Regions from separate parts of the Homo sapiens genome. Here region 1 is linked to region 2. The links come from fine-mapping of genetic effects on gene expression. A gene starts in region 2. The other region holds a variant in brackets. All regions are shown on one strand. Distances are from middle to middle.

Evidence for each region.
Region 1: its variant is fine-mapped to the expression of PALM2AKAP2 in whole blood (INTERVAL, PIP 0.98).

The regions. Positions count from the first base shown.
Region 1 is chr9:109,989,972-110,005,203 of GRCh38, reverse strand. All of the region lies in intron 6 of PALM2AKAP2 (PALM2 and AKAP2 fusion), which reads right to left. Among named protein-coding and RNA genes, the nearest start is that of C9orf152, 210 kb to the left of the region's middle. The variant A/G (reference allele first, on the strand shown) is at 6,325.
Region 2 is chr9:109,771,388-109,786,619 of GRCh38, reverse strand. PALM2AKAP2 (PALM2 and AKAP2 fusion) reads right to left here and starts at 6,422. Exons shown (of 11, transcript NM_007203.5): 1 at 6,087-6,422. The coding sequence starts at 6,131. PALM2AKAP2-AS1 (PALM2AKAP2 antisense RNA 1) reads left to right here and starts at 14,349. Exons shown (of 3, transcript NR_171891.1): 1 at 14,349-14,645.

The DNA.
Region 1 (15,232 bases), 220 kb before region 2:
AAAACCCCATCTGTACATCACCATCATCAAAGACCAAAGGTAGATAAAACCACAAAGATGGGGAAAAAACAGAGCAGAAGAACTGGAAACTCTAAAAATCAGAGCACCTCTCCTCCCCCAAAGGAATGCAGCTCACCAGCAATGGAACAAAGCTGGACAGAGAATGACTTTGACGAGTTGAGAGAAGAAGGCTTCAGACGATCAAACTACTCCGAGCTAAAGGAGGAAATTCGAACCCATGGCAAAGAAGTTAAAAACCTTGAAAAAATATTAGATGAATGGCTAACTAGAATAACCAATGCAAAGAAGTCCTTAAAGGACCTGATGGAGCTGAAAACCACGGCACGAGAACTACGTGATGAATGCACAAGCCCCAGTAGCCAATTCGATCAACTGGAAGAAAGGGTATCAGTGATGGAAGAGCAAATGAATGAAATGAAGTGACAAGAGAAGTTTAGAGAAAAAAGAATAAAAAGTAACAAACAAAGCCTCCAAGAAAAATGGGACTTGTGAAAAGACCAAATCTACATCTGATTGGTGTACCTGAAAGTGACAGGGAGAATGGAACCAAGTTTGAAAACACTCTGCAGGATATTATCCTGGAGAACTTCCCCAATCTAGCAAGGCAGGCCAACATTCAGGTTCAGGAAATACAGAGAATGCCAAAAAGATACTCCTCGAGAAGAGCAACTCCAAGACACATAATTGTCAGATTCACCAAAGTTGAAATGAAGGAAAAAATGTTAAGGGCAGCCAGAGAGAAAGGTCAGGTTACCCACAAAGGGAAGCCCAGCAGACTAACAGTTGATCTCTCAGCAGAAACTCTACAAGCCAGGAGAGAGTGGGGGCCAATATTCAACATTCTTAAAGGAAAGAATTTTCAACCCAGAATTTCATATCCAGCCAAACTAAGCTTCATAAGTGAAGGAGAAATAAAATACTTCACAGACAAGCAAATGCTGAGAGATTTTGTCACCACCAGGCCTGCCCTAAAAGAGCTCCTGAAGGAAGCACTAAACGTGGAAAGGAAAAACTGGTACCAGCCACTGCGAAAACATGTCAAATTGTAAAGACCATCGATGCTAGAAAGAAATTGCATCAACTAACGGGCAAAATCACCAGCTAACATCATAATGACAGGATCAAATTCATACATAACAATATTAACCTTAAATGTAAATGGGCTAAATGCTCCAATTAAAAGACACAGACTGGCAAATTAGACAAAGAGTCAAGACCCATCAGTGTGCTATATTCAGGAAACCTACCTCATGTGCAGAGACACACATAGGCTCAAAATAAAGGGATGGGGGAAGATCTACCAAGGAAATGGAAAACAAAAAAAGGCAGGGGTTGCAATCCTAGTCTCTGATAAAACAGACTTTAAACCAACAAAGATCAAAAGAGACAAAGAAGGCCATTATATAATGGTAAAGGGATCAATTCAGCAAGAAGAGCTAACTATCCTAAATATATATGCATCCAATACAGGAGCACCCAGATTCATAAAGCAAGTCCTTAGAGACCTATAAAGAGACTTAGACTCCCACACAATAATAATGGGAGATTTAACACCCCACTGTCAACATTAGACAGATCAACGAGACAGAAAGTTAACAAGGATATCCAGGAATTGAACTCAGCTCTGCACCAAGTGGACCTAATAGACATCTACAGAACTCTCCACCCTAAATCAAGAGAATGTACATTCTTTTCAGCACCACACCACACCTATTCCAAAATTGACCACATAGTTGGAAGTGAAGCCCTCCTCAGCAAATGTAAAAGAATAGAAATTATAACAAACTCTCTCAGACCACAGTGCAATCAAACTAGAACTCAGGATGAAGAAACTCACTCAAAACCGCATAACAACATGGAAACTGAACAACCTGCTCCTGAATGACTACTGGGTACATAACAAAATGAAGGCAGAAATAAAGATGTTCTTTGAAACCAACGAGAACAAAGACACAACATACCAGAATCTCTGGGACACATTCAAAGCAGTGTGTAGAGGGAAATTTATAGCACTAAATGCCCACAAGAGAAAGCAGGAAAGATCTAAAATTGACACCCTAACATCACAATTAAAAGAACTAGAGAAGTAAGAGCAAACACGTTCAAAAGCTAGCCGAAGGCAAGAAATAACTAAGATCAGAGCAGAACTGAAGGATATAGAGACACAAAAAACCCTTCAAAAAATCAATGAATCCGGGAGGTGGTTTTTTGAAAAGATCAACAAAATTGATAGACCGCTAGCAAGACTAATAAAGAAGAAAAGAGAGAAGAATCAAATAGACGCAATAAAAAATTATAAAGGGGATATCACCACCAATCCTACAGAAATACAAACTACCATCAGAGAATACTATAAACACCTCTACACAAATAAACTAGAAAATCTAGAAGAAATGGATAAATTCCTCGACACATACACCCTCCCAAGACTAAACCAGGAAGAAGTTGAATCTCTGAATAGACCAATAACAGGCTCTGAAATTGAGGCAATAATTAATAGCTCACCAACCAAAAAAAGTCCAGGACCAGATAGATTCACAGCTGAATTCTACCAGAGGTACAAAGAGGAGCTAGTACCATTCCTTCTGAAACTATTCCAATCAATAGAAAAAAAGGGAATCATCCCTAACTCATTTTATGAGGCCAGCATCATCCTGATACCAAAGCCTGGCAGAGACACAACAAAAAAAGAGAATTTTAGACCAATATCCCTGATGAACATCGATGCAAAAATCCTCAATAGAATACTGGCACATCAGTATTTTATTTGATGTGAATCTAGCAGCATATCAAAAAGCTTATCCACCATGATCAAGTGGGCTTCATCCCTGGGATGCAAGGCTGGTTCAACATATGCAAGTCAATAAACATAATCCAGCATATAAACAGAACCAATGACAAAAACCACATGATTATCTCAATAGATGCAGAAAAGGCCTTTGACAAAATTCAACAACCTTCATGCTAAAAACTCTCAATAAATTGGGTATTGATGGGACGTATCTCAAAATAATAAGAGCTATCTATGACAAACCCACAGCCAATATCATACTGAATGGGCAAAAACTGGAAGCATTCTCTTTGAAAACTGGCACAAGACAGGGATGCCCTCTCTCATCACTCCCATTCAACATAGTGTTGGAAGTTCTGGCCAGGGCAATCAGGAAGGAGAAGGAAATAAAGGGTATTCAATTAGGAAAAGAGGAAGTCAAATTGTCCCTGTTTGCAGATGACATGATTGTATATCTAGAAAACCCCATCATCTCAGCCCAAAATCTCCTTAAGCTGATAAGCAATTTCAGCAAAGTCTCAGGATACAAAATCAATGTGCAAAATTCACAAGCATTCTTATACACCAATAACAGACAAACAGAGAGCCAAATCATGAGTGAACTCCTATTCACAATTGCTTCGAAGAGAATAAAATGCTTAGGAATCCAATTTACAAGGGACATGAAGGACCTCTTCAAGGAGAACTACAAACCACTGCTCAATGAAATCAAAGAGGATACAAACAAAAGCATGAACATTCCATGCTCATGGGTAGGAAGAATCAATATCATGAAAATGGCCATACTGTCCAAGGTAATTTATAGATTCAATGCCATCCCCCTCAAGCTACCAATGACTTTATTCACGGAATTGGAGAAAACTACTTTAAAGTTCATATGGAACCAAAAAAGAGCCTGCATTGCCAAGTCAATCCTAAGCCAAAAGAACAAAGCTGGAGGCGTCACGCTACCTGACTTCAAACTATACTACAAGGTTACAGTAACCAAAACAGCATGGTACTGGTACCAAAACAGAGATATAGACCAATGGAACAGAACAGAGCCCTCAGAAATAATGCCACATTTCTACAACTAACTGATCTTTGACAAACCTGACAAAAACAAGAAATGGGGAAACAATTCCCTATTTAATAAATGGTGCTGGGAAAACTGGCTAGCCATATGTAGAAAGCTGAAACTGGATCCCTTCCTTACACCTTATACAAAAATTTATTCAAGATGGATTAAAGACTTAAATGTTAGACCTAAAACCATAAAAACTCTAGAAGAAAACCTAGGCAATACCATTCAGGACATAGGCATGGGTAAGGATTTCATGTCTAAAACACAAAAAGCAATGGCAACAGAAGCCAAAATTGACAAATGGGATCTAATTAAACTAAAGAGCTTCTGCACAGCAAAAGAAACTACCATCAGAGTGAACAGGCAGCCTATAGAATGGGAGAAAATTTTTGCAATCTACTCATCTGATGAAGGGCTAATATCCAGAATCTACAATGAACTCAAACAAATTTTCAAGAAAGAAACAAACAACCCCATCAACAAGTGGGCGAAGGATATGAACAGACACTTCTCAAAAGGAGACATTTATGCAGCCAAAAGACACATGAAAAAATGCTCATCATCACTGGTTATCAGAGAAATGCAAATCAAAACTACAATGAGATACCATCTCACACCAGTTAGAATGGGGATCATTAAAAAGTCAGGAAACAACAGGTGCTGGAGAGGATGTAGAGAAATAGGAATACTTTTACACTGTTGGTGGGACTGTAAACTAGTTCAACCATTGTGGAAGTCAGTGTGGCGATTCCTCAGAGATCTAGAACTAGAAATACCATTTGACCCAGCCATCCCATTATTGGGTATGTACCCAAAGGATTAGAAATCATGCTGCTATAAAGACACATGCACACATATGTTTATTGCGGCAGTATTCACAATAGCAAAGACTTGGAACCAACCCAAATGTCGAACAATGATAGACTGGATTAAGAAAATGTGGCACACATACACCATGGAATACTATACAGCCATAAAAAATGATGAGTTGATGTCCTTTTTATGGACATGGATGAAGCTGGAAACCATCATTCTCAGCAAACTATGGCAAGGACAAAAAACCCAACACCACATGTTCTCACTTGTAGATGGGAATTGAACAATGAAAACACATGGACACAGGAAGGGGAACATCACACACCGGGGGCCTGTTGTGTGGTGGGGGGAGGGGGGAGGGATAGCATTAGGAGATATCCCTGATGTTAAATGACGAGTTAATGTGTGCAGCACACCAACATGGCACATGTATATATATGTAACAAACCTGCATGTTGTGCACATGTACCCTAAAACTTAAAGTATAATTAAAAAAAGAAAAAAAATAGAGAAAAATGGAATGGTCCATTCAATAAATACAAAAATTTCAGTCTTTAAAAAAAAAAAAAAGGAAAGAAAAGGAAGAATCTACACTCAAATTTGTGTAAGCTAAGTACACAGGGGATCCTGGGACTCAGCCTTCTGCTGCCAGCTCCTCCTTGGTGGTGTCTTAGCTCAGCCCCAGTGTGGCATCTCCACCTCCACCCTCTGCTGGGAACTCACAGTTCTGATCATGGCCCCATTTAGTGGGACACAAATTAGGGCCTAGGCAGGGAGAGCCCTGACATGTGTCTCATGGTGCTTCCTGGTCGATGCTGCTTCAGCGGGCCGTTCTCCACGCAAAGCACCTGTGGGCAGGAACTGGGCTTATACACAGTTAGTCTCATCCAAGTGTTTGTTAAATGAGAAGTGTTAGTTCTGGGCAGGAAGTTTTGGGCGACAGGAGCTTCAGAGAGTGCCGAAGGAGAAAAGAAGAATGCTACAAGAGAGAAGGCAGAGGGCACTGGGAACAGATGGTCCCAGGCCTCAGTCCATCCCCCTAAACTGGAGAGGCAGGAACCACATGGGTGGACTAGACTAGACCATGTCTGGGTGGTGAGACCCTGAGCACATTTTTTTTATTTTTATTTGTTTTTATTTTATTTATTTATTTATTTATTTTGAGGCAGTCTTGCTCTGTCACCCAGGCTGGAGTGGTGCAGTGGTGTGATCTTGGTGTGATCTTGGCTCACTGTAATCTCCACCTCCAAGGTTGAAGTGATCCTGCTGACCCAGCCTCCCATGTAGCTGGGATTACAAGTGCACGCCACCAAGCCCAGCCAATTTTTGTATTTTTAGTAGAGACGGGATTTCGCCTTGTTGGCCAGGCTGGTCTCAAACTCCTGATCTCAGGTGATGCACCCACCTCAGCCTCCCAAAATGCTGAGATTACAGGCGTGAGCCACCGTGCCCAGCCAGACCCTGAGCACTTTGAAGATAGGGACTGTCCTCCCTGCTGTCCCACCCCAGGCCTCAGTCAGCACAGTCTGGGCTGGCACACAGTGGGAGCTCATTAAATATTTCCCAAATTGAAGTGGAAGGGGCCTCGAGGCTGCCTAAGCTACTCTCCCATCAGGGCAGAAGCCTCCTCTAC[A/G]AAGTCACCTGATGGATGACATGGCCTTTTCCTGGTCATGGTTCTTACTACCTCACAAGGTCATGCACATTGGGCAGCTAGAATGGACTATCCCCCCTTTTTTTTTTTTTTTTTTGCGACAGGGTCTCGCTGTCACCCAGGCTGGACGGCAGCGGTGCAATCATAGCTTACTGCAGCCTTGAATGCCTGAGCTCAAGCAATCCTCCCACCTTAGTCTCCTGAGTAGCTGAGACTACAGGCTCCCCACTCCCCCGCCCTGGTCAGAAAGTACCATATTAAGAAGAGCTGAGCCACAAACAATTCAGAAAAATAAGATCCCAGATGATGACCTATGTAGCCTGGCTTATGGAGAGGACATGGTGAGGCGCCCTCCACGGCTATTGAGTGTTCGCTTTTGTTTGCTGGGACTTTGGTATACCCTTCTCAGCCTTCCAGCCTTCCTATCCATCCTGATTATTCTCGTCCTCATCACACCCCTGCTTCTACCTTCATCAGCCCACTGTCATAGACACAGCAAAGGAACTTTGAGGAAGTCTGGAGCCCGGCCTTTTGGGTTTCAAGGAGAGATACAAGGCTCTGAGTTGGAAAATAAGTTGTCAAAGTCTCACAGTCAGTAGCCACTAAGCTGGGACTGAAGGAGACAAGAATGCCTCTGCTTTTCCTAAACCAGACTTCTTCCTGGACAAAATCATATCAACCCCATTTTATAGGCAAAAGATTGGCCCACTGGGGAATCATCTTGCTTGATCACAACAAAAAGAATGGGGTTAGCTCTCTTCCTCACTAGAGTCTCTGCACAGACAGCCATCACATTGAGACTTGGCCAGTTATTTCTCTTCCTCTTAATTGCCTTTGGCTCCAAGTAACCCTGTGGATTTTTAAAATCTCACTTTGTTCTTGGAGGATTTCTCAGCAGGGTGGGCATTAGAACTTAGCGGAACTTCAGAACAATGATCTGCCTTTAAACACTTGGCTTTAGGAAGCCCCACCCCAGGATAAGCTGATGGGGCCTGCTTCCTCTGGATGGGAAGCTCTGCCCCGGGTTTGAAGGAGGAGGGCAGGATGCAACCCCGTCCCACCCTCCCCACTCCAGGTGGTGGCTCTTCCTTGGTCCTGAGCTTTCTCTTCCTTAGGATAGCTATGAGGACCAGGCCCTGCGGCCTCCAAATAGAGGGCAATTCCCTCTCCCTCTTCTGCTCTCTCTTAGGAGAGCTCATTGAGAAACAGGAAGGTCCATCTTTTGGATAAGTTATTTTTCTCGAACTCACCATAGGTTATTGGAAACCTCTCCTGCAACCCCAACTATTTCTCCTTGAGTAGGGGAGTCCTCTCTGAGTGCCTCTGAGTGGATGTTAAAGGATCTCAAATATATATATGTGTATATAAAACCCTCAATGTCTTGCCAGTGTGGCCCCATGTCTTCTCAACCCCCTTGCTCTGTTTGCCAGCGGGGCTGCAATAGTAGCAGTAATGACAGCGAGACTATCCAGAGGATGTACTATATATAGCCTTTATGTGTATTACCTTACTTAATCCTCATACAACATGATGAGGTAGACACAATATTATCCCCGCTCTGCAGATGAGAAAACAGGCTTGCAAAAGTTAAAATGACTGAGCTAACAAGTGATGGAATCAATATTTATTTATTTACTTTTTATTACTTTATTATATATTTATTTATTTTTTCAAGAGAGGCTCTTGCTCTGTCACCCAGGCTGGCATGCAGTGGCGTGATCATGACTCACTTGCAGCCTCAACCTCCTGGGCTCAAGTGATCCTTTCACCTCAGCCTCCTGGGTAGCTGGGACTATAAGTACATGCCACCACGCCCAGTTAAATTTTGTATTTTTAGTAGAGATGGGGTCTCACCACGTTCGCCAGGCTGGTCTTGAACTCCTGGATTCAAGTGGTCCACCTGCTTCAGCCTCCCAAAGTGCTGGGATTACAGGCGTGAACTACCACACCTGGCCCATATGTTCTTATGTACACACATGCACACACACATGCACTCTTAGACATTTATGTGCAGGCTTGTGTGTACGCATGCCAACCCACACACATACATGTGCACAGCCCATGCACACACCCATGTGCATGTGCACACACAGATGCATATCTGGGCATGAAGCTGCAATAGCTTTCCAGCTACCACAGTACACTCAGAAGCTTGGACCTCTCTTGAAGGAGAAAAGAGCTTTTCTCTGTCATAGCATCTGAGAGTGGGTCAGAAAACTGGGTGTTTCAACACCCTACCCTCAAAGGTGCGTTTTAAACATCCTTCTGTATATGAAGAAGGAAGCAGACTCCAATTGCACAAAATGAGAGCAAAAAAGGATCATGGTACATTGTTTAAAATGAGTTTTACAGGACCCTTGAGGCCCAAACTAATTTTGGAAATGGTTTGTTTTGGCTAGCCTGTGCCAGTCCTCAGAAATTAAAGCCTTTTTAAGCAACCATGAGACTTGCAGCAAGTTCAAGGGACTGTTCCTTTTCCCTACTCAAAGGTTAGAGAACTAATAGCTTAAAACTTGGTTTCCTCTCCAATTATTTCACAAATATTACCATTCAGTGGGGCCCCTTTCCAGGTCCAATAAAAGATCCTGTTATATTCTCCACATACTCTAATGATTAAGTTTGCCACCCTTATTTTACTAGGCTGGAAACATATTTAACATTTGCTCCCTAAAAATGTGACATAAAATTAAACAAAACCCAGAGTCACTGTCTTGGATCTAGTTTCCATCCAGAGGAGATGTATTAAACAACTAGTTGTTAAAACAGCAGGTGGTGACAGGGACATATTTAGAGTCTTTGTGCTCTTGGAAGGGTCAGCTACCCATCTGGTGGTCTGTGACATTCCTTCTCTTGCTGTATAAATTGTGTCACTAGGCTGAAGGCAGAGTGGAGAGCAAAGCCCTTGGATTCATGGAGAAGCTGGGACCTGCAGTATCTTTCCTGCCTCATCCTTCCTCTCCATCCTCATGGCAAGTGCACCAGTTCAGGCCTCCAAGGTCCTCAGCTCAGATCTGTCTTCCATTCCATGACCATCATTATTTTTCAGAAATGTAGCTGTGCTCACATCACTCCCCACCTGATATGGTTTGGCAGTGTCCCCACCCAAATCTCAAATTGTAGCTCCCATAATGCCCACGCCATGGGAGGGACCTGGTGGGAGGTAACTGAGTCATGAAGACGGGTCTTCCTCATGCTGTTTGCATGACAGTGAATAAGTCTTGTGAGATCTGATGGTTTTATAAAGAGGAGTTCCCCTGCACATGCTCTCTTTGCCTGCCGCCATGTAAGATGTGACTTTGCTCCTCCTTCACCTTCTGTCATGATTGTGAGGCCTCCCTAGCCATGTGGAACTGTGAGCCAATTAAATCTCTTTTGTTTATAAATTACCCAGTCTTGGGTATGTCTTTTTTAGCAGCGTGAGGATAGACTAATGCACCACCTCAACTGCATTCCTTGCATTTCTGTTGTGTTGCAGGCATGGTGCTTGGGCTGGAAAGATTAAGATGGAAAGACCCACCCCCTGCCATCAGGCAGTCTGGGAGGTGGTTTTCTGTCTGTATAATCTGATTTCTAGCACTGCTCCTTCCTCTCCCTTTTCTTACTACATGAGGCCTCTCCTGGGTAGGTGGCCAGGATGTTCCATTTCCACCCTGAGTTCTGGGTGTCCTGCCAGAGCTTCCTCTCCAGTCCCTGGGTGGGAGAGGGCTGTGGCAGTGTCAGGTCACCTATGGGAGCTCACCCAGCCATTTAGGAAACTCACTTGAATCATGTAGAAGCCTATAAAAGAGAATATTTTTAAAAGAATTATCTGGAAAGTTCCAGAAGGGTTTTAGGGTAATCATCCACCCAGTGTTATACATGGCAGCCCTGGTGGCTTGTAGACATGCTGTGGTATTTTGTTATGGCAAATGAATTCTAGCAAATGAATGCACTTGGGTACCACCAGGTCAAGGCATAGAACAAGAGAGCCCCTGACTCGCAGCTGATGGGTGTGGGGCAAAGGTCAACTCCCAGAACCAGGTCCATGGCAGGGCTCAGGATCAGAGCCTCCCAGCAGAGTCAGAGAGCAAGGGGGCTTGAGGAAGGGAGAGTCTAAATATGAGTGTTGGGGGACAACTCACCAAGCCTGTGGGTGTGGGGTGGCGGAGGGGAGACAGAGCAATGGAGAACACAGAGATGACCAAAGCAAGACCAGTGATGCAGGACGGGGGAGTAGGAGGTGGTCAGGATGGAGTCCAGGGACTGGACGCTCAATGCTCTTGGCAGGCTGTTTGTGAGTGGGGTGAGGGGGTTGGTTTGTTTAGAGGGTTTGAGTCTAAACTGCTGTGGGGCTAAATGTGCTGAAAGCAGAAGGATCAAGATATTAGTTATGTAGTTTTCATATTGCTTTATGACCCAGTGTTGCTTTCAATTCAAGAGTGCTTGTATGATTGGAAACAAAAAAGCCTGAGGTTTCTCAAGTTTAAAAACCCATTCGGGAGTTTGGCTGGACCCACTACAGAAGTCTGGAAGCTAAAACACAGATACTGTTTGTCTAGTCTTTTGGGATGTATCCATAACTTAGCATCAAAGTGGATACATCCCAAAGTCTTCCTCTGCCGTCATGTGCAAATTCATCTATCTCTGTCCTGGACACACATGCAAATTTTTAAAGCACTCACAACTCAAAATGACACAGGATCACTCTGATGATTTGATATACGATGTGAATAAAAGTTACCAATGGGAGTTCCTCCCGTCCTCCCTCCCCTTAGCTGCTAAAGGAACCTGGCACTGGCAGGCTCCATTTCTTTCCCGTCCTTACCCTTAAGGGAGAGTTCAGTATTTGCCAGCCCAGTAGCTAGGTATTTATAATACTGAATTGGGAAAATAAGTAGGAAGAGATAAGCTGGAGAGGCAGGAGGAAAAAGAAAGGAGAAAAAAGAGAGAGGCTGAGCTGCCTAGACTTGAGGGAGAGGAGGAAGAGGGTGAGAGACAGGGAGAGATGAAGAGAGATGTGAGGGGAGAAAAAGAGGGGGAGAGAGTAAAAGAGAGAGGAGGAGAAGAAAGGGAGACAGAGAGAAAGAGAGTGAAAAAGAAGAGGGAGAGAGAGAGGAAAGGAGAGAGAGAAAAACAGAGGGAGAGAAGAAAGGGAGAGAGGAAGGGGAGGGAGAATGAGGAGAGGAAGGAAGAGAGAATAGTGGTGTGAGGGGAGGAATCAGAGTAGACAGTGATGGTTTTGGCCTTTGGCCCTCCCAACACGGACTCCCCCTTATTATGTTAATAGCACTCCAATTTCCCTTTGGGCTGCTACCCTCTTCTATTCCTAGTTTATGCAACTCACATAGAGGTGCCTCCATTCCTAAGTTTTCTTCCTCAGGAGGTGGTCAGTGTCCTACTGACAAGTTTAGGGATGGGCATGTGATAAATGCACGTGACAGAGTTGGCCCAATGAGAGCCAGCCCTGGGACTTCCCTTAGAATGCTGGAAGAAGGAAACTCTTCTCAATGAGTTTGCTAAATTGCTCAATTGCTAAATAACACCTGGGAACCCTGGTGGCCACCTCTTAGTGGAAACACTATGCAGAAGAGAAAGCCCACAGAGAGGAAGGCAAAGCTGGGAAATGGAGTCCAACCCAAAACAACAACTCCTGGACTTTTCAAATTTGCAAGAAGATATTATCTTTTTTTTTTTTTTTAAGGCACTTTGAATTAGGATTCTGTCATGTGTGACCAAAAGAGTACTGAACAGAGAGACTCCAAGAGGAGCAGCTGCAGGGGACAGAAAAAGGGATCTTCATTGATGTTCTTTAAGAATTAAAAGGAGGGAGTGTATATTTAGGGCAACTTGAATCTATGCTCCTGGGTTGCAGTCCCCAGGCTTGGCCCAAATAAACTCTCTCTGCTCTCTCTCTCTCTCTCTCTCTCTATATATATATATATACATATATATGAATTTAAAAGAAAAGATTGAAACTCCTTTCAATGGTTTTTGGAAGCTAGACTATGCTTCCGTGCATGTGACATTTCACCAAGACTGTGTGGTCTTCCCAAGTGTGGTCCCAGGATTTAGTAGAGTCATTTACTACAGGACTCATAGCATTAGGAAATGCTATGGTCAGAAGAGATGCTAGAAGTCATCTAGTTGCATTCTCTCTTTAGCGCTTACACCTCTTCAAGTATTTTGAAAAACTCTGATTACATTTGCACACTTCCAGGGATAAGGAACTCACTTTCATAAAGGCAGCCTGTTATGGATTGAATTGTGTTCCTCAAAAAGATACTTTGAATACAAAAATTAGCTGGTTGTGTTGGTGCATGCCTGCAGTCCCAACTACTCAGGAGGCTGAGATAGGAGAATCACTTGAGCCCAGGAAGGCTGCAGTGAGTCATGATCACACCACTGCACTCCAGCCTGGGCGACAGAAGTAGACCCTGTCTCAAAATAAATAAACAAAGTAAATAAAATTAAAAAGATATTTTGAAATCTTAACCCCTAGTACCTCAAAATATGACCTTATGTGGAAATAGGATCTTTGCAGATGTAGCCAAGTTAAGATGAGGTCATCAAGGTGGGCCTTAATCCAATATAACTGGGAGTCCTTAATAAGAAGAGAGACTGACAGCCAAGAAGATGGTTACATGAAGACAGAGGCAGAGATGACAGTTATGCTACCACAAGCCAAGCAATGCTTCGGGGAGCAGAAGCTGAGAGAGGCCCGGAAGCACCCCTAGACCTTCAGAGAGAGTATAGCCCTACCAACACCTTGATTTTGGACTTCTAGGCTCCAGAACTGTGAGAGAAGAAATTAATTTCAACCCAGAAAAAAAACAAGGTTGTTTCAAGCCACCCAATATGTGGTACTTTGCTATGGCAGTCCTAGGAAACCAATACACAGCCCATTCCATTTTTAGCAACTTTCAGGTCAGAATGTTCTTCTCGACACTGAGCTAGAATTTAATTTTATGTAACTACTGGTCCTAGCATGGTCTTCTGGAGTCAAACACACGTCTATTCTTCCTCTACAAAACAGCCTTCAAGCTTCCAGGATGCGATTATGTCCCAGCTGAGACATCCCTTTGTTTATGTTCCTAGGTCATTCACCATCCTGGTGTCATTTAAAGCCTGATGTCTGCAGCCATAGAGCTGTTTGCTCTTTCCTTAGCGGCCACCAGAGCTACGTTGCACAAGCTATCCTCAATATCTTCTTCTTTGAGATGTATACCAGCAAGGCTTAAGATGGACTGCAGCTCAGTATTAGGGGGAGGAGTTACTCCCTTTGAGAATCTTCGAAAGTGACACCTTTTTATTCATAATCTTAAAGACGTGGTGGCCAAGTGTGGTGGCTAAGTGTGGTGGCTCACGCCTGTAATCCTTACACCTTGGGAGGCCAAGATAGGAGGATTGCTTGAGTCCAGGAGTTCTAGACCAGCCTAGGCAACACAGGGAGGCCCCATCTCTGAAAAAAAAAAATTTAAATTAGCTGGGTGTGGTGGTGCTTGCCTGTAGTCCCAGCTACTCGGGAGGCTGAGGTGAGAGGATGCCTTGAGCCCAAGAAGTTGAGGCTGCAGTGAGCCGTGATCACGCCACCACACTCCAGCCTGAGTGACAGAGGGAGACTCTGTCTTAAAAAAAAAAGAAAAAAAAAAATGTGATGATGGTTAAGGCTATTATAAAAAGCTCTTAGAGGAAGAAGAAAAACTGAGACATAGAGAAAATGCTGTCAATAGGTAGCACTTAAAAAAATAACCTGGCTCCCTTCCCAACCAGGGAGGCAGAAATGTTGCTCTCTGCACCAGTCTCACCCTGGGTGAGCTGCTTCAAGAACCCCCAACAGTCAGAAACAGAGGTAAGGGGTAATTGCCCTAGGAAGCCCATATCCCTGAGCCCTAACTTAGAGGACTTCCCTACTAGCCCAAGATGGCCCTCTTACACTAGTTGAAAACAAATTACTCGGCACCAAAAGGAAATTTGGAAAATGCGGAAAAAGCCTCTCAACGTTGTCTTCTAATTTTTTTCTCCAAGAGTAAAAATATTACCACAGATTTACAGGATTCTGGGCTCATGTTTATCTCACAAGGAACAAAAGGCAAAGTATTCTGGCAAATGTGCCATTTTCTGGCAATGTCACTGATTCAGCTTTACATTCCCACACCCAAATGATCTGTGGCTTTGGTCTGATGCCTATTGCAGTAAAGCGAAGCTGCCTTTGTTCAACCTAGCCAGATGGCTTCACTTTTACTTTGACAGAGAGTTGAATTTTTGAGCCATTTTAAAGGTAGCTCTTGAAGCAAGGACTAAGAATCTGAGGAGCTGGCTCTGAACTCTGCCCTGAGACCCTGCTTTTTAGACTAGGATCAACTTGGGGTACGCTTACATAGGGTCACTAATGGAAAGAGCTTTGACGACACTATACAGAAATATGTGGGCTCACTGTGCCACACCTGTTCTGACACACTGAAGTGCAGCCTGTTGCATCTTCATGAAGACATCTAGCCAACCCCTAAGAAAACAATGCGTTCAGGCAAGGCACGGTGGCTCACGCCTGTAGTCCCAGCGCTTTGGGAGGCTGAGACAGGCGGATCACTGGAGATCAGAAGTTCGAGACCAGCCTTGCCAACATGGCTGGAACCCCGTCTCTACCAAAAATGGAAAAATTAGCTGGGCTCTATAACCCCAGTTACGTGGGAGGCTGAGGCACGAGAATCACTTGAACCCAGGAAGCAGAGGTTGCAGTGAGCCAAAATCATACCACTGCACTCCAGCCTGGGTGACAGAGTGAGACCCTGCCACAAAAGAAAAAAAAAAAAAAAAAGAAAGAAAGAAAAAAGAAAACAGTGACTTAAACAGTGGAACAGTGGTAAACATAAGGAGTTTGTTATTCCCGAAATTATTTCCATTCTGGATATAA
Region 2 (15,232 bases):
ATGGGCCCAAAGTGTCACCTATCCAGTGGGCAGCTTCACAGACTCAGCCAAGTTGAACCCTTCCTCAGCACCAATATACCACGCAAATGATTTTTTAGGCCTTAACATGGAATTTTAGAAGCAGGGTGTCATCTGCATCTCTGAGATATAAGATAACAGATGAATGACCAGGATCTTAAATTCTCCAGTTCTCTGACAGCTGCATACCAATAACACAAGTCCACAAGGAACATGGATGGGGATGGTCCCCACATGAATCACAGTGCCTGTTTCTACAGGGCTTGGGTTTGAGTCTCTAACCCCTCTGAGGGATCCTTGGGAAGCTGGACTGGATAGTATGTAAATCATTGCAAGGACTTTTTGCCCATGCTGTGCAGGTCGGCCTAAAAGGCCTGGACCAAAAGCAGGGTGGTGGCCTCCTTGGCCACTGGCCCCACACTCCAAGCCTGGTACTCAAGGCTGTAATGCTCCCAGGCAAGAAAAGGCATGGAGAGGCGAATCCAACGAAAAGCCAATGAGCACTTCTCTGTAAGCCCACGGCACAGCCAGCCTAGGCCAACAGCGTATACCCAGGTCTATGCAGGACTGAGAATAGAATCAGATGAAAGCCATAAACTCACTAGCTGACCCCTTGGTGAGAATTTCAAGAATGAAAGAGGCCGAAAGTGAAATCCTAACAAGGGCATATTCCATAGAGACACATCCAAGCTCACTCCTCTCCTCCCAGCCAGAAGATTTTAGTCCAGCAGGATCTTAGTTGCAGTTTCAGCCCGTATCAAAGCACCCTTCCAAGGCTGGATGTACCACTAACACAAGTGATACGGTTTTGCTGTGTCCCCACCCAAATCTCATCTTGAATTCCCACGTGTTGTGGGAGGGACATGGTAGGAGGTAATTGAATCACGGGGACATGTCTTTCCCATGCTGTTCTTGTGATAGTGAATCAGTCTCACGAGATCTGATGGTTTTATAAAGGGGAGTTTCCCTGCACAAGCTCTCATTTCCAGTCTGTTGCCATGTGAGATGTGCCTTTCACCTTCTGCCATGATTGTGAGGCCTCCCCAGCCACGTGGAACTATAAGTCCATTAAACCTCTTTTTCCTTATAAATTACCCAGTCTCGGGTATGTCTTTATCAGCACGGTGAAAACGGACTAATACAAGAATTGGGAGTCAGGAGAGGCTGGGATTTACTACAACTCTTCCACCTCTATCTGTGTAAGCTTGGATAGCTCTGAATACTCACCTGTAAAGCGTATAAGATTTGCTCTACACACCTCAGGAAGAAGGTAGCATATACAAGGTTTTCATAAATTATAAAGTACTGCACAAATGCAAAGATCATTTTTATTACTTCACAGAGTGGGTTCTAATTAAATGACAAAATTCCCTAAAGAACAGCATAGGTTAGATTAGCATTTCCTATTTCCGCACATATATAAACATACTCATGCTGGTCCCTGGTGTAGCCTGAGCCTTGTCCACGTGGCTCTTAGGAGTTTCACCCAAGACAATTTATATAACATTTACTTATTTTCACTCATGCCCAAAGAAAACTATCTTCCTCTCCAATGTGCAGACATAACAGCACCCTCCCACAAGGTTAGTTTCCACTGAGACACAACAGCTTCTTCCCCATGGGAATGTTACTCGTTCCATTAAATTTTATGTTGGGTATTTCTATGCACTGAATCCAGGCTTGAAAGACTCTCAAAAGGAGGTAGGCCTCCTGGCTTGTCTCAAGCTTTCCCATTGCAATGGAATCAGTCTGTGGCTCACACTCAGGCTGCTGAGACCACCTGCACAGTGTGCTCATGGGAAAAGTGCGAGACGCTGCCGCCATCTTGGGTGGCAGCTCAGGGCAGCAGTCAAAGCAAAGGCTCCAATGGCCTGCTGCGGGCAGCATTCAAATCCTGGCTTTGATACTATCAGTTTAATGTTAGACCAGTTCTAGAACCTCCTCACCTATAAAATATGAGTAATACTGTAGTGCCTACCTCATAAGCTTCTTATTAGGATTCAATGAGATAATACATGCTGAAAAGCATTTCAGTGTTCACTCTGAGTTTGTGTCTTTAGCTACTGACTTAACTTCTTCATGCTTTTGCCTTTCCCTTTCTCACACTAAATGTCCTGAATAAATAATAATCAAATAACGAATAAACAAATGCCTCCTGGTAATTGGGAAGGTTATGATGTTATTTTATATTTTATTTTACCCAATTTTCAGGACTTACTCTAATGTCTTCTTTTTGGGGAATTGTTTCACAACTCTGAGATTGGTTTACATGTTCCTCCTGGATGCTCATTTTCATAGTACTCCTGGATAGTAACTGCTTATGTGCTTTTCTATTTCTTCCATTAGACTATAAATAACGTTAGGTGAAAAACAAAAAGTATTTCACACCGTGCCTTTCTGAATGAACAATATTCAATAAATGGCAATTGTTGTTATTAGTCCCTGGGATTACCATTCTCACTCATGCTGTTTCAGAGGCTTTTTACCATGTTCTAAATGTAAAGTTTGGGGAGTATCCCTACAGAAGAAAGGAGCATGTGAGTGTAGAGATCATTGTCAAAGATGGACTTGCTCTTCTTTTGGCAGAAATTAGGATAAGAGTCATCTTTTCTCATTGATTAGTTCCTGGATCCAAATGGAAGATTCCATTAAAGCACTGTAGTTTCTAAGTATTTAATTCAGTTTTGTTGGTGGGGGCGGATATTCCACAGATGTTCATGTGACAAGCATCTTAGGTATCAGGACATCTGTCCTTCAAGAAATTATGTGCAAAAGGTGAAATAAAGGTTTCAGCCTCAGGCAGCTGAAACCTGGGGACACCAACTTTTCAGTGTTGCCAATACCTTCCCAGAGGAGGCAATCTGTAAATACCTACTGAACAAATGGATGAATGAATCCTCAAGTCATATCTCTGCCTCTGTCTAAAGCAGTTAGAGAAAGTGATGCTGGGCAGGGCCCTGACTTTCAGTCAGTTGAAGGAAGGGATTAAAAAAGAGCTGTTCAGACCAAGTATAGTGGCTCATGTCTCTAAACTCAGTGCTTTGGGAGGCAGAGGTGGGAGGATCACATGAGGTCAGGAGTTCCAGACCAGCCTGGGCAACATGGCGAAACCCCATCTCTACAAAAAATTTAAAAATTAGCTGGGCATGGTGGCACATGCCTGTAATCCCAGCTACTGGGGAGGCTGAGGTGGGAGGATGGTTTCAGGATGCAGCGAGCTGTCATGGCAGCACTCCAGCCTGGGTGACAGAGTGAGACTCTGTCTAAAAAAAAAAAAAAGTCATTAATACACATTCCACTTCAGAGATGTTGCTTCTGACCCCCCACAGGACAAGACAGCAATACAGACAAAAGCTAAGGGCTCTGCTCAACACCATCCAATGACAGCTACCTGCCAGGTGCTTCACCTCCATCCTAACTAAACCTTACAACCAGCCCAGGAGGTAGAACTCATGAACCCATTCTACAGATGAAGGAGCTGAGACCCAGACTAAAGACTGCCCAAGGCCCTGCAGACTGGAATCCCAGTCGATTCTCTGCCTCTGAGAGAGAAGCCCAAGTAAGTGAAGATGTGAGGACCTATTGTCTTCTTCCCTCACATCTCCAGAGAGACTTCAGGAGTGCTAGGTTCTGGGGGCAGGCTTGTGATCTCCTCAGGGTCCCCTGAGAACTCCAGGAAAGTGATGAGAGAGTCAGGGTTTGCAGAATTCAGAAGAGTAGGCACTAGACCAAAGCATAGCATAAAACCATTTACCGATGTGGCCATAAGTCCCCCCACCCAACTCCCTCTGTCTCTTAATTGGCTCTCTCTCTCACACACACATACACACACACACACACACACACACACACACACAAACAAACACACGCTGTTAGCAAATCTGTCCTGACAACATCATACAGTCATCCCTCAGTATCCTCAGAGAATTGGTTTCAGGACCCCCTTGGATACCAAAATCAAAGGATGCTCAAGTCCCTATAAAATAGCATGGTATTTGCATATAACCTACTCACATCCTCCCACATACATTAATCATTTTCAGATTATTTATAATACCTAATACACTGTAAATGCGACGTAAACAGTTGATTATACTGTATTATTTAGGGAATGGTGACAAGAAAAAGTCTGTACATGTTCAGTACAGACTCAGCTATCTATTATTTTTTCCAATAGTTTCAATCCAAGATTGACTGAAGGCGTGGATATGGAACCCATGAATAGGGAGGGCAGACTGTATTAGGTGCACATTCATGAGAATAATCAACAGCTCCCCAGATACACAGGACAAACTCAATTCTTCAATAACTGAAGAGGCACAAGTGAGTATTTGTGTGTATTCTTATATGCTCAAGAGAATTCCCAAAGATTTGCCTAGATCTTTCTTGGAAAATCGACTTGGCCTCTGCTGGGATTACTCAACCGCACTTGGAAAAGGGTACCCCAGTGTTAGCAGCTACTGGCTCCATGTTTGGAAAGCAAGTCCTTTCATGGAGTTCAGCTGTTCCTCAGGCATCCAGTAAAGCTGGTTGTGCAAAGGCAGAAAATGTGACAACTGTTGGAAGCCTTCAGCAGCAGCCAATGGGAACAGCCACTGCATCAACAGTTAAAGCAGCCTATTATCCAGTTCACACAAAACACCCACCAGCTACATGGCACCATTAACTCAATATCACCATTCTTATCAAGTTCATGACACACTGGCCATGCTGCCTTGCCACCAACTTTAGAAACCACAAATAACTTCACAAACCATCAAAATACACATGCACAGGGGGAAAGAGAAAGAAGAAAAAAACAACCTTTCTGAGTTCAGAGCACCACGTTCAAAGATTACCTAATAGGCAAACCATGGCATTTCAATATTGCCAGCAAACATCTCTCTCACTTCAGTGGTGAAGTCTCCAAGACATTTCAGATTTGAGGCGTTTGAGAAAGAGGGTCTCAGAGCCTTGGAGACCATGTCAAATGCTTCTAAAAAAGGAAGGGTCTGTGTGCATTTTCCCAATGAAGAATCTGTCCAAAAAGGTTTTGGAAAACGCTTTAATATACTTTGGTTCCAAAACATTACACACTATTTCTCCAACAAATTTATATGTGTTTCCAGAGAACTTCCGAACTGAAAAACACAAATGTATTTAGGTGGAAGAATGTCTGGAGATTCTTTTATGCCAATATGTTAACGGACCTTCTTTTTTAATTGTTACTATTTCATACGGCAGCAGTAATCATTCCCTCATCCTCGAAGGAAATATATAATCCAGCTGTGGTGGCTCCAGTAAAAATACCACATCTGTGGATCATTGGCAACACTGTGTTAAGATTGCTCAAATCTAGGCAGTCTCAGAGAGTTCTTTTTTAAACCCAAGATGCACATGGGTACACTTTTCTGAAAGTGCCTACGAACTTTGCCAAAACTGACTACTCCTTTGTAGGCTGAAAATAGGTTTTCAGATACTCCACACCATAAGAAGGAGGCTCTCATGGAATATTATAACCAGGACCCAGTTGTATGAAGTCCCCAGACCTCCAGGGTGGTGGCTTGTGCCAGTGCCCTTGTCAATATCAAACAGAGAAGGGAAAACTAACATTCCCGGTTTCTGGGAGGAGGTTCTACCGCGTGGCTGGCTGAGTCGCTGACTCCTGGTTTTCCACTTAACAGGAGGACAGCTTCCGCAGAGAGGATGGCAGCCACCGTTCAGGTCACCCTTCTCTTGGTTCTCCAGGCTATGAAGCCAACGTATGCCTGAGCATTCGGTCATAATATTCCTGGAGTCGTCCCCCCACCCCAAGCCTCTGTTTAGTCCTTCCCCAAAGCCCAGCAGCAAGCATCTTTTTTTAAGCCAATCTTCCACATTCAAATCCTCAGTCCAAAGCGCGCCCTTGGGGGTCTCCATCTATAGACATAGAAAAGAAAAGGCAGCCTAGCTGAGCCCTGACAGAGTTTTAGCCCCTGGAACATATGACCTGCGGCTACTGTGCTGGCATGCCGCTTGCCCCGAAACCCTCGGGGGCCCCCTTCCACCCCAGACAATAGAGCAAGAAAATAAAATGAAAGTGGACTTACTGCTATGGCTTGCAGCCTTTCCTTGTGCAATTCCGCCTCTGCCATCCTGGAGAAGGGCACACAGGCAGGGGAAAGAGGAAAGAAAAAACACACGCTGTAGTCACCCAAGGAAACTGATGGGCACCCCGGGGGGCTTTGCTAGAACCCGGGAGAACGCCCAGGGACGGCTGGGGATCCGCTCCAGGGGCGGCGGGCAGAGCTGTGCGCACGGCGGGCTCGCCCGGGCTCAGCCTCTGGCCCCCGCCCTCCCGGCCGCCTGGCTGCGCCCCAGCGCCGCCGCTCACTGCATCTCCCGGTCGCCGCCGCCGCCGGCCGCGCCAGCCGAGGACGTGGGACGCCGGCAGCCGCCGGGAGGGCGCGCTAGCCCGGCGCTAGTTCTCCGCCCTGACGTCTCGGTGCCTCGCTCCGCCCCTGGAGTGTGATGGACCCGAGGCCGCGGTCCAAGGCGGCTCCGAGCGATCGCCGCCGCGGGTCTCCAAGGCGCAGACGGAGGGCGCGCGAGCCAGTGGGCACCTGGGGCGCGGGCGCACGGCGAGCCGCTGGGGCGCACGGCTGGCGTGGCGCGCCCGCGTGGACACGCGCTTGCTGGGGCGGAGGCAGAGCGCAGTGGCGCCTCCACCGGGCAGATGCCAGTGGAGAGGGGCGTCTGACCGAATGTGGGACCCGAGCACGTGCTGTTACGTGGGGGCTGGGGCCACCGAGTGTTCAGGGCACCTTCTGGCTCAAGCCAGACGCTTGAGCTCCACGTGGGGACATTTACAATTTGGGAAGGGCTGCCTTGCCCAAGTGGCCCACATGCTTAAGATGACCAAGTTCTCAATATCAAGTCGGCCGAGGGTAGGGTATATCTCCAGAGAGGCCACCCTTCTGGTGAGGCGATATGTGGCCTTAAAAGAAGCCGAGAGTTTTTAGTCCTGGGTGCTAGACTAGATTTCACAATGTGTTAGCTGTGAAATCTCAGGCAACTCGCTTAATCACTCTGAACCTCAGTTTCCTCATCTGAAAAAATGGAGGATCACATAGGTGTCATTAGAGACGAATGAGAGACAGTATGTAAAGGTGCTTTGTAAAGGGCATCACAGACATCTGCTCTTATTATCCTGTGACATTCTGGATTGAAATCCTTTCAGGGTCTTCTGTTCATTGCATCTGAAAGGAAAAGTAGGATCTACTCACTAAAATATTTCACCTATTCTTTACTAAAACAGGATACCATGTGGTACTAATGTGAGTCTTTTGTGACAGGTCCTGGACTGGATGTAAGAAGTGGATCAGGCCCAGTCCAAAAGGAGATCAATGCCAAAAGCAAAAAAAAATGCCTCTTCACATTGAGGCAGGACCTGCTAGAATTCCCAACATTCATATGCAAACGTTTCTTCATCAAATGAAATAAACACTGAAATAACTAATATGGCCTCTTTAGAGCCATAGGATTTAAAGGCATGTTAAAAGATATACACATCAGGCCAGATGCGGTGGCTCACACCTGTAATCCCAGCACTTTGGGAGGCCAAGGCGGGTGGATCACCTAAGGTCAGGAGTTCGAGACCAGCCTGGCCAACATGGTGAAACCCCTTCTCTACTAAAAATACAAAAAATTAGCCGGGCGTGGTGGCAGGCACCTGTAATCCCAGCTACTTGGGAAGCCGAGGCAGGAGAATCACTGGAACCTGGGAGGCAGAGGTTGCAGTGAGCCGAGATCACATCATTGCACTCCAGCCTGGGCAACAAGAGTGAAACTCTGTCTCAAAAAAAAAAAAAAAAATGCACATCAAATTTTCCCAGATCACCTGTTTCCTGAATAAATGCTTCCATTTCAACTAAATTGCCCTTTCAATTTTCACAGAGGTTCACCTGTCACTGATGAACAATTACTCCTCTGACCAAAGATGGAAGCACTCACCAAAATCGTTTACTGATGGATTGTTTTCCCATCTTTTTCATAACAAGTGTAGGTGGAGCTGATTGTTTAATAAATCCAAGCCAGTGCCAGATTCTACATCCCACTCCAATATATCAGAAACTTCTACTTTCTGGCTAAGCCCATCCTTTTCTTCAAATGCATCCTTTTTTCTTCATTTCCAGCACAAGCCCCAGCAGGACAAGTTATTTAAAGGGGTTTGCTCACAAATAAACAAAGCTGTTATTGCTTCAGCAGAGTGATTGTAGAGAATACTAAGATGAGGAAAATGAGACCAGAGAGGTTGAAAGACTCAGCTACAGTTATAGAGCTGGGATTTAAACTCAGATCACACTCACCAGAGCCCATGCTCTTAACCATTAAGCACCAGGCTTGGCCAATGATATGGAGATAGAAGCAGGCCCCAGGAATAAACAATTGAACCAGAAATGGTCCTTCTACTCCCAGCTATACAGATATTTAAAAGGTATGATTGAGCACAACAGTGTGAATGTACTTACTGTCATCAAACCATATGCTTAAAAGTGGTTGAAATGGTAAATTTTAAGTTTTGTATTTTTAACCGCAATAAATTTTTAAAAGGAGTGATGGAATGGGGAGATGGAGAAGGAAAAGGGCCTGGGCACCCTTTGGAAGTGATCAGTTGGAAATATCTGAACTCTGAATAGAAGAATCGGGGTTGGGGACACACATCCAAGTGTCATCTACTTTGCGGTTACAGCTAAAGAAATGAGAACAGCCAGGATGAGAAAACAGAGCAAGAAGAGGAGAGAGCCCAGCAAAGAAGACTGATAAAGTATCATCCGAGAAGTAGAAGGAAAAATTCAAAGGGATTTGCACCAAAAGCCACAAAGAAGGAAAGAGGTTTTCAACAGGGTCATATGCTTCTGAAAGGTCATGGGGGATGCAGATGAAGAAGAGACCATTGGAGGGCTGTCAGTAAGCCATGAGTGACTTGTGTCCAGAAGATGAGCTTGGAAGCACTTACAAGAGGTGAGGAATGACTGCTACCAAGTGAATGTTGAAAATAAAACAAACAAAAATGGGGATGAGCGAGAGATCAGAGAAGCAACCATGAGTACAAACTGCTTCTTTCAGCTCTTCAGATGTGAAAGATGAAGGTGGAGAACAGGAACATAGCCCATGGGAAGCAGGGTCTAGTGGAAAGGGTTTTTAGGTCAGGCAAGACTTGGATGTTTGGGGGTCAAAGCAAATTAGACAACAGGGAAATTAGGCCAAAGATACAGTCAAAAAGGAAGGTGAATATTAGTCAAAGTCTCTAATTAGTCAAGAGGACATTCAGATGAGCATCACATTAGCCAGTTAGCCTTGGGAAGAAGGAATAACGAAGTAGGGAAGGAGGAAGAAATGGATAAAGACAAGAAGAAAGTTTGAGTTCAACTCTCAGGAGAGAGGTTAAGTGAATTTGCATCAGATGGACTGGTTTTCCCAATTGAACAAAGAGTCATTGATTAAGACTGATGGCGTAGGGTTGGGGCTTCAGAAAAATAGAAATCGTTTGTAAAGAAACTGTGAAAGATGAGAAAGACTAAAACATGGTTCCTAATCAGAAATCTGCATCAGAATCTCCTGAAGACCTGTACAGAATTAAATTTCTACAGGGTGATGTGGGAGTTAGGGATGGGTTTAGAACCTTTGTACTAATTGAATTTACTAGGAATAGACTAAAGACTCATGACCAATAGTGTGTACTTCCTAAGTGATTTTTAACTGCCCTGAGACCCACAATAAAAAAAGCTTGTGTTTATTCAGTGTTGCGGATTATCAAAGCAGGTAAGACAAAAAGCCAAAGAAGAGAGGAAATTCAAAATGCTTCTGGCCAGGTAGGAAGTGTAACAGACTTGTTCATATACACATTTTTTTTTCCTCTGGCTGGCCAATTTGTGAACTCCTTCCCATCTTTGGGGATTTCCCATATTAAAAGCCATAGTGAGAGGCAGAGCCACATCCTGTGGTAGAAGCTGGGAGGTATCAGACACTTGTTCCCCAGATCCCCCTGAAGCCATGGTATGGCAGGCAATCTCGGCTCAGTCAGGCATGTGTGCCTGCCAAGAATTTTGGAGACTGAGCATGTTAGAGAATTCCTTCAGGCTATTAGTTCACCTTTGGTTGTACCCATTGCCCAAGCTTCCTTCTTTGGACGTTCCATCTCTCCTGTGAGCTATCTAATACAATTTCATTTCATTCTTTTTCTGCTCCTATCAGCCAGAATCTATTTCTGTTGCTTGGGACCAAGAACCCTAGGTGAAACAGGAAGGCACATGAAATGACTGCCTGATGGTTGGCCAAGGAGCAGAGGGAAAATCTTTTTTCCTCTTCCAGCACTTCTTTCAACTTTCTAAATTTTAGTATTTTAAAATCTTTGAACCCATTACAAACACAGGCATTTAAAACCCAAACTATGCTATTTATTTAATAAACATATTGTATAATTATTTTATATTAGATGTTTGGCCATGGCCTGGTATTAAGAAAAAAAATCGTAGTCTAGTGCCACAATGATATTGGTGACTATTTGCCCTCCAAACATTTAAAATCTGGATATATACATCACAATGATGCATAATGTATGTAACAAATCACTAGTTCTTGCTGGGACATTAAATTGTGTTGCATAAACACCATCTGTACGGTTTAGTGGTTTTTATGATAGATGCTTCATTGCAAAGCATTATACGAAAAGGATACAGAATGCTAGATATGCAAAATAGATGTTTTGTTAATAAAAATTTCAGAATCTATTTTAGAACATGAGTCCTTTGAGAATCACAAACGATCATAGCCAATTCCTTTGTGGGGAAAACAAGAGCTCTGTATACCAAAAGGGAAATGACTTGCCAAGGCCCGTTGTGTGAGTAAAAGTCAGTCTTGTTGAGCAAGAGCTATGAGTGTGACATTTCCCAGCAACCTGAAGCTTCCCTTGGACAAAAGTAATTTTGAAAGGAATGCCAGGATCCCCTCAAATGTTTATATTTGTGTTAGTTCTTTTTTGCCTGGGATCTTTTGAAAATAAATGGTCATTTAAAACATATGTGATAGCTGCACAGAATCAAAAGAAGGAGAACATTGCCTGTGGTCCTCTTGGCTCCTGTGGTTGTTAGCTCTTTGGGAAAGTTGATGGGATTTCAAGTATATGCTATTTTTCTCCATGGGATCCAAATGATAGATTCATTTAGGGAGTCCCCATGGAGCAAGAAGATAGAAAGAAGTCAGAAAACAGCACCATTGTGAAAAATAAACTAGGCTGAATGTTGCTTAAGGTATATAGTGGCTAAGGTCTTTACATAGCAGATTGAAAATGAGCAATTGGAAATCTGGCTAGAAATGAATATCAATATTTCACTGTGATGACTTCCTTTTCTCTTGGTTAGCTTTGGCAATGTCAGTTGATCAACATGAGTCCCTAGAGGAAACTGGGTAGATAAGGAGAGTGTACGGGAATCAATTAGAGCCAAATGGTTAGAGATCATTCTACATTTATTTTGTTGTGGTAGTATGGACAAATCACATAATAGATTAGAATGACAGTTTCCTTACATTAAGATGGAAATGAAAATATGTGATGTCCAGTCTCATTGGGTTGTCATATCTGATAAGTTTAAATACTGTGTTATTCAGATGTTGGTCCAGAGTGGTAGTCCTGTTAATGACAAAAGTTTTGAAAAGTAGGATTAGGAAGTAGGAGGTAGATATGACACAGAAAAGACAGGAACTCTGAAGACAAGTTGGAATCTCAGCCCTCTCACAGGGATGTTGTAATAAATAAGGTTAACAGATGTAAAAGGCTTGTGATTGGCCATGGTAGGTGCTCTGGAAATGGTAATCTTGATCACTCAACCCAATCATTGCTTCATGAAAAATGCCATGGACCAACTTAAGTGAATGACTTCATTTTATCCACCCTTTTATGTAGGCTTTTTTTTTTTTAAGGGTTGAGCTATCGGTATTCTTAACATTCCTCCCATTAGTCAGTACTTCTCATTTTCCATCTTTTAAACAAGAGGATTCTGCCCTATGTCATTTATTATCTAGAAACACCTTTACTAGACTCTGCTTTTAATGATTCTTAGACATCTACAGTCTTATCTTTTAGTGTGGGTCAATCTAACAATTATAAATAAGAAGGAATTTAAAAATTTAAGAGGAGATAGATTAAATCCTAGGAAAATATGGGAAGAACAGCTTAATTTTTGAGTATTAGGAAGAGAGCTACATGCCTACATATTGAAGGTGCTCTGTGGTAGAAACAATTCTAGGTTTGGCTATGAATTAGCTACAAACTAGAAAGTCTTTGGGAAGGCCAGGTTCTACTCCAGCCTGGTTATCTGATGCCAGTAGACACAGTCAGGTCATTGGTTTCTCAGAGAGCTTAGGGGCCAGTCTGGTTTACCTTAGCACAATGACCACGATGTGCTCCGTCAGCTTGGAATCCCTTTTGGTAGCGTGGCCATCAACACTTTCATTGTTAACCATGTTTCAATAATGCCGTGTACATTCTGCAAGTCAGCACTGCTGACAAGAGAGAAATTTCCTGCGGGGTTGGCAGTGGAGGGATGGTGGCCTGCCTACTAAATCCTGTCCACCCTGCTGGCTGGGGAATGAATAATGAAATTGGGAAAGCCTAGCTTCAGCTCCTACCACCTATGGATGCTGTGCCTGCCTGACACCTTTGGGAATGACAGAGGTCTCAACTGCCCCTTGCACACCCTCCATATATTGACTAAATGGATCCTAGCCAGTCTCAAAAATTGCTCATTACTAATGTGTGACCCTCCCAGCCAGGGCCTCCCGGACAAACTGCCTTTCCCCAAAGCAGCTCATGGTAGAGTGGAATGAACATAAGACAAAGTATCAATCCTAGGTCCTAATCCTAACTCTGCCACTTGCTGTGTGACTTTGTACAAGTCACTTGCCTGCTCTGAACTGAGGTTCTCTATTTGTAAAATGGGAATAGGTTTTCCATCTGTAAACTGGGAACAGGGATAGCTAACTAGTCCCATTAGATTCTTATAAGTTTAAAGTTCGTGAATGAGAAAGTGCTCTGAGAACTACAAATGCTGTGAGAGTGAAGAACTACAGTGAAATAAAATACTTCAAAAGTAGGGCTTAGGGACATGCTGACTGGTTGGTGGGAAGATGTTTAGAAGGTGTTGCAGGCCAGGTGCAGTGACTCATGCCCACAATCCCAGCACTTTGGGAGGCTGAAGTGGGAGGATAGCTTGAGGCCAGGAGTTCAAGACCAGCCTGGGCAACATAGTGAGACCCTACCTCTACAAAAAAAAATTTAAATTAGCCAGGTGTGGCAGCATATGGTTGTAGTCCCACCTACTCAGGAGGCTGAGGCAGGAGGATCATTTAAACCCAGGAGGTCGAGGCTGCAGTGAATCATGATCGTGCCACTGCACTCCAACCTGGATGAGAGAATGAGAACCCCATATCAAAAAAAAAAGACTTTGCAACATTCTTTTTTTTTTGAGATGGAGTCTTGCTCTGTCACCCAGACTGGAGTGCAGTGGCACGATCTTGGCTCACTGCAAGCTCTGCCTTCCAGGTTCACGCCATTCTCCGGCCTTAGCCTCCCAAGTAGCTAGGACTACAGGCGCCCGCCACCACACCCGGCTAATTTTTTGTCTTTTTAGTAGAGATGGGGTTTCACCGTGTTAGCCAGGATGGTCTCCATCTCCTGACCTCGTGATCCGCCCGCTTCGGCCTCCCAAAGTGCTGGGATTACAGGCATGAACCACTACACCCGGCCCGACCTTGCAACATTCTATAGCCACTGTAGACTCAGTGCACCGGGAGAAAAGGTTGTGCTAACACATAAGATAAAATATGCTTTCAAGTTTTTGGAAGGGTTTCTAAGATGATCAAGCCAGTAAATGAAAATGCCAGCACCACCTGGGGCTCTCATTCACTCCTTGATGTTTCTCAGTCACTCCAGTGATTTCCCCTTCATGGGGTTTGAAGACCAACAGCCCCACATTCTGATCTACATATCTAATTAGCTTAAATACACGCAGAAAAGAGTGTAGCAGTCAGAGGATGAGATGGGAGAAACAGAGATAAGCAGAAGAGAAGGAAACAGAAAAACTTGGATCTTTTGTCAGTTGTGTGTGTGTGCCAAACCTATATTTGAATGCTGTTTGGTCTGTGTTTACTTTAATGTGTTCTTCTTTCTGCATTCATTCAGAGCTAAATTTATCCCACTAGAGAAGGCATACTTGGGGAGGTGGGGGTGGAAAAAGAACAGACACAAAGGCGGCTGCTTGACTGGGAGCCAGGAGCCTTGTGGAGTTCCCTGGAAGAAGACGGTGGTAGCCAGCACATGGAAGGTAGCCACTCCAGAGGCTCTGTGAGGACTCTGTGCAGACTTCACAAGGGAAGGTGTTTCCACAGGAGCCTCTGCGCCCTTCGCTTTTGAGAAGGAAGTGACCAGGAACAAGACTTTAGAACTTGTAAATTAGAAAAAGCAGTTCTATAACTCCCATGAGCTCCCAAATCTGGCCCAACCCTTCAGGAAATGAAGACTCAGCAGCTCTCTGGCCTCCCCAGGGAAAACAGTGTCTGTCCCCACGGAAAGAAGAAGGGCAGCTGGCAGGGCCACTTCTGCTGCAAAGGTGATCTTGCTTTCTATTGGAGGGTCATGCCAGTTGTTTATCTGCTGCGGTAATGCCTCTGGGGTGGGAGGGGAGGAGAGGGAGGTTGTTGCATTCCACCTTCTGGGTCGGATTAAGTATTGTGCCCCTAAAACTGGAGGTAGGATCATTAATGCTCCCTGGGCTGCGACCCAGGTGCCTCCTGTTGGTCCTTCATGATTTTCTTTCTTCCCACTCAGTTATCATCTTTCCTCCTCTAATGCCTTACTTCTCACTCCCCCAGAGTGAGCCCTTCTTACACTATTTTCTGTCAGTGGACAAGTCATTGAAATTGAGATAGCTTTTCCTGCGATCAGAGAGTTCTCTGTTAGAATTGAAGACCTTTCTGTAGAACAGGTAGTCAATTTCCATCTGGGACTCTGTCCATCATTATGAAACTTCCCTTCATTGATTTGGGGGAAGGGAGATTTCTAGGATTCTGGGATGGTTCTCCTTTGTTTTAGGCTCAGATAAGTCACCACAGCATCTTGCCAGAGTTTTACCCTGTATTTGGTGTCTAGTACCCTCCACTCCTCCCCAGAGAACTTGACACCTTCTTCATCTGTTCG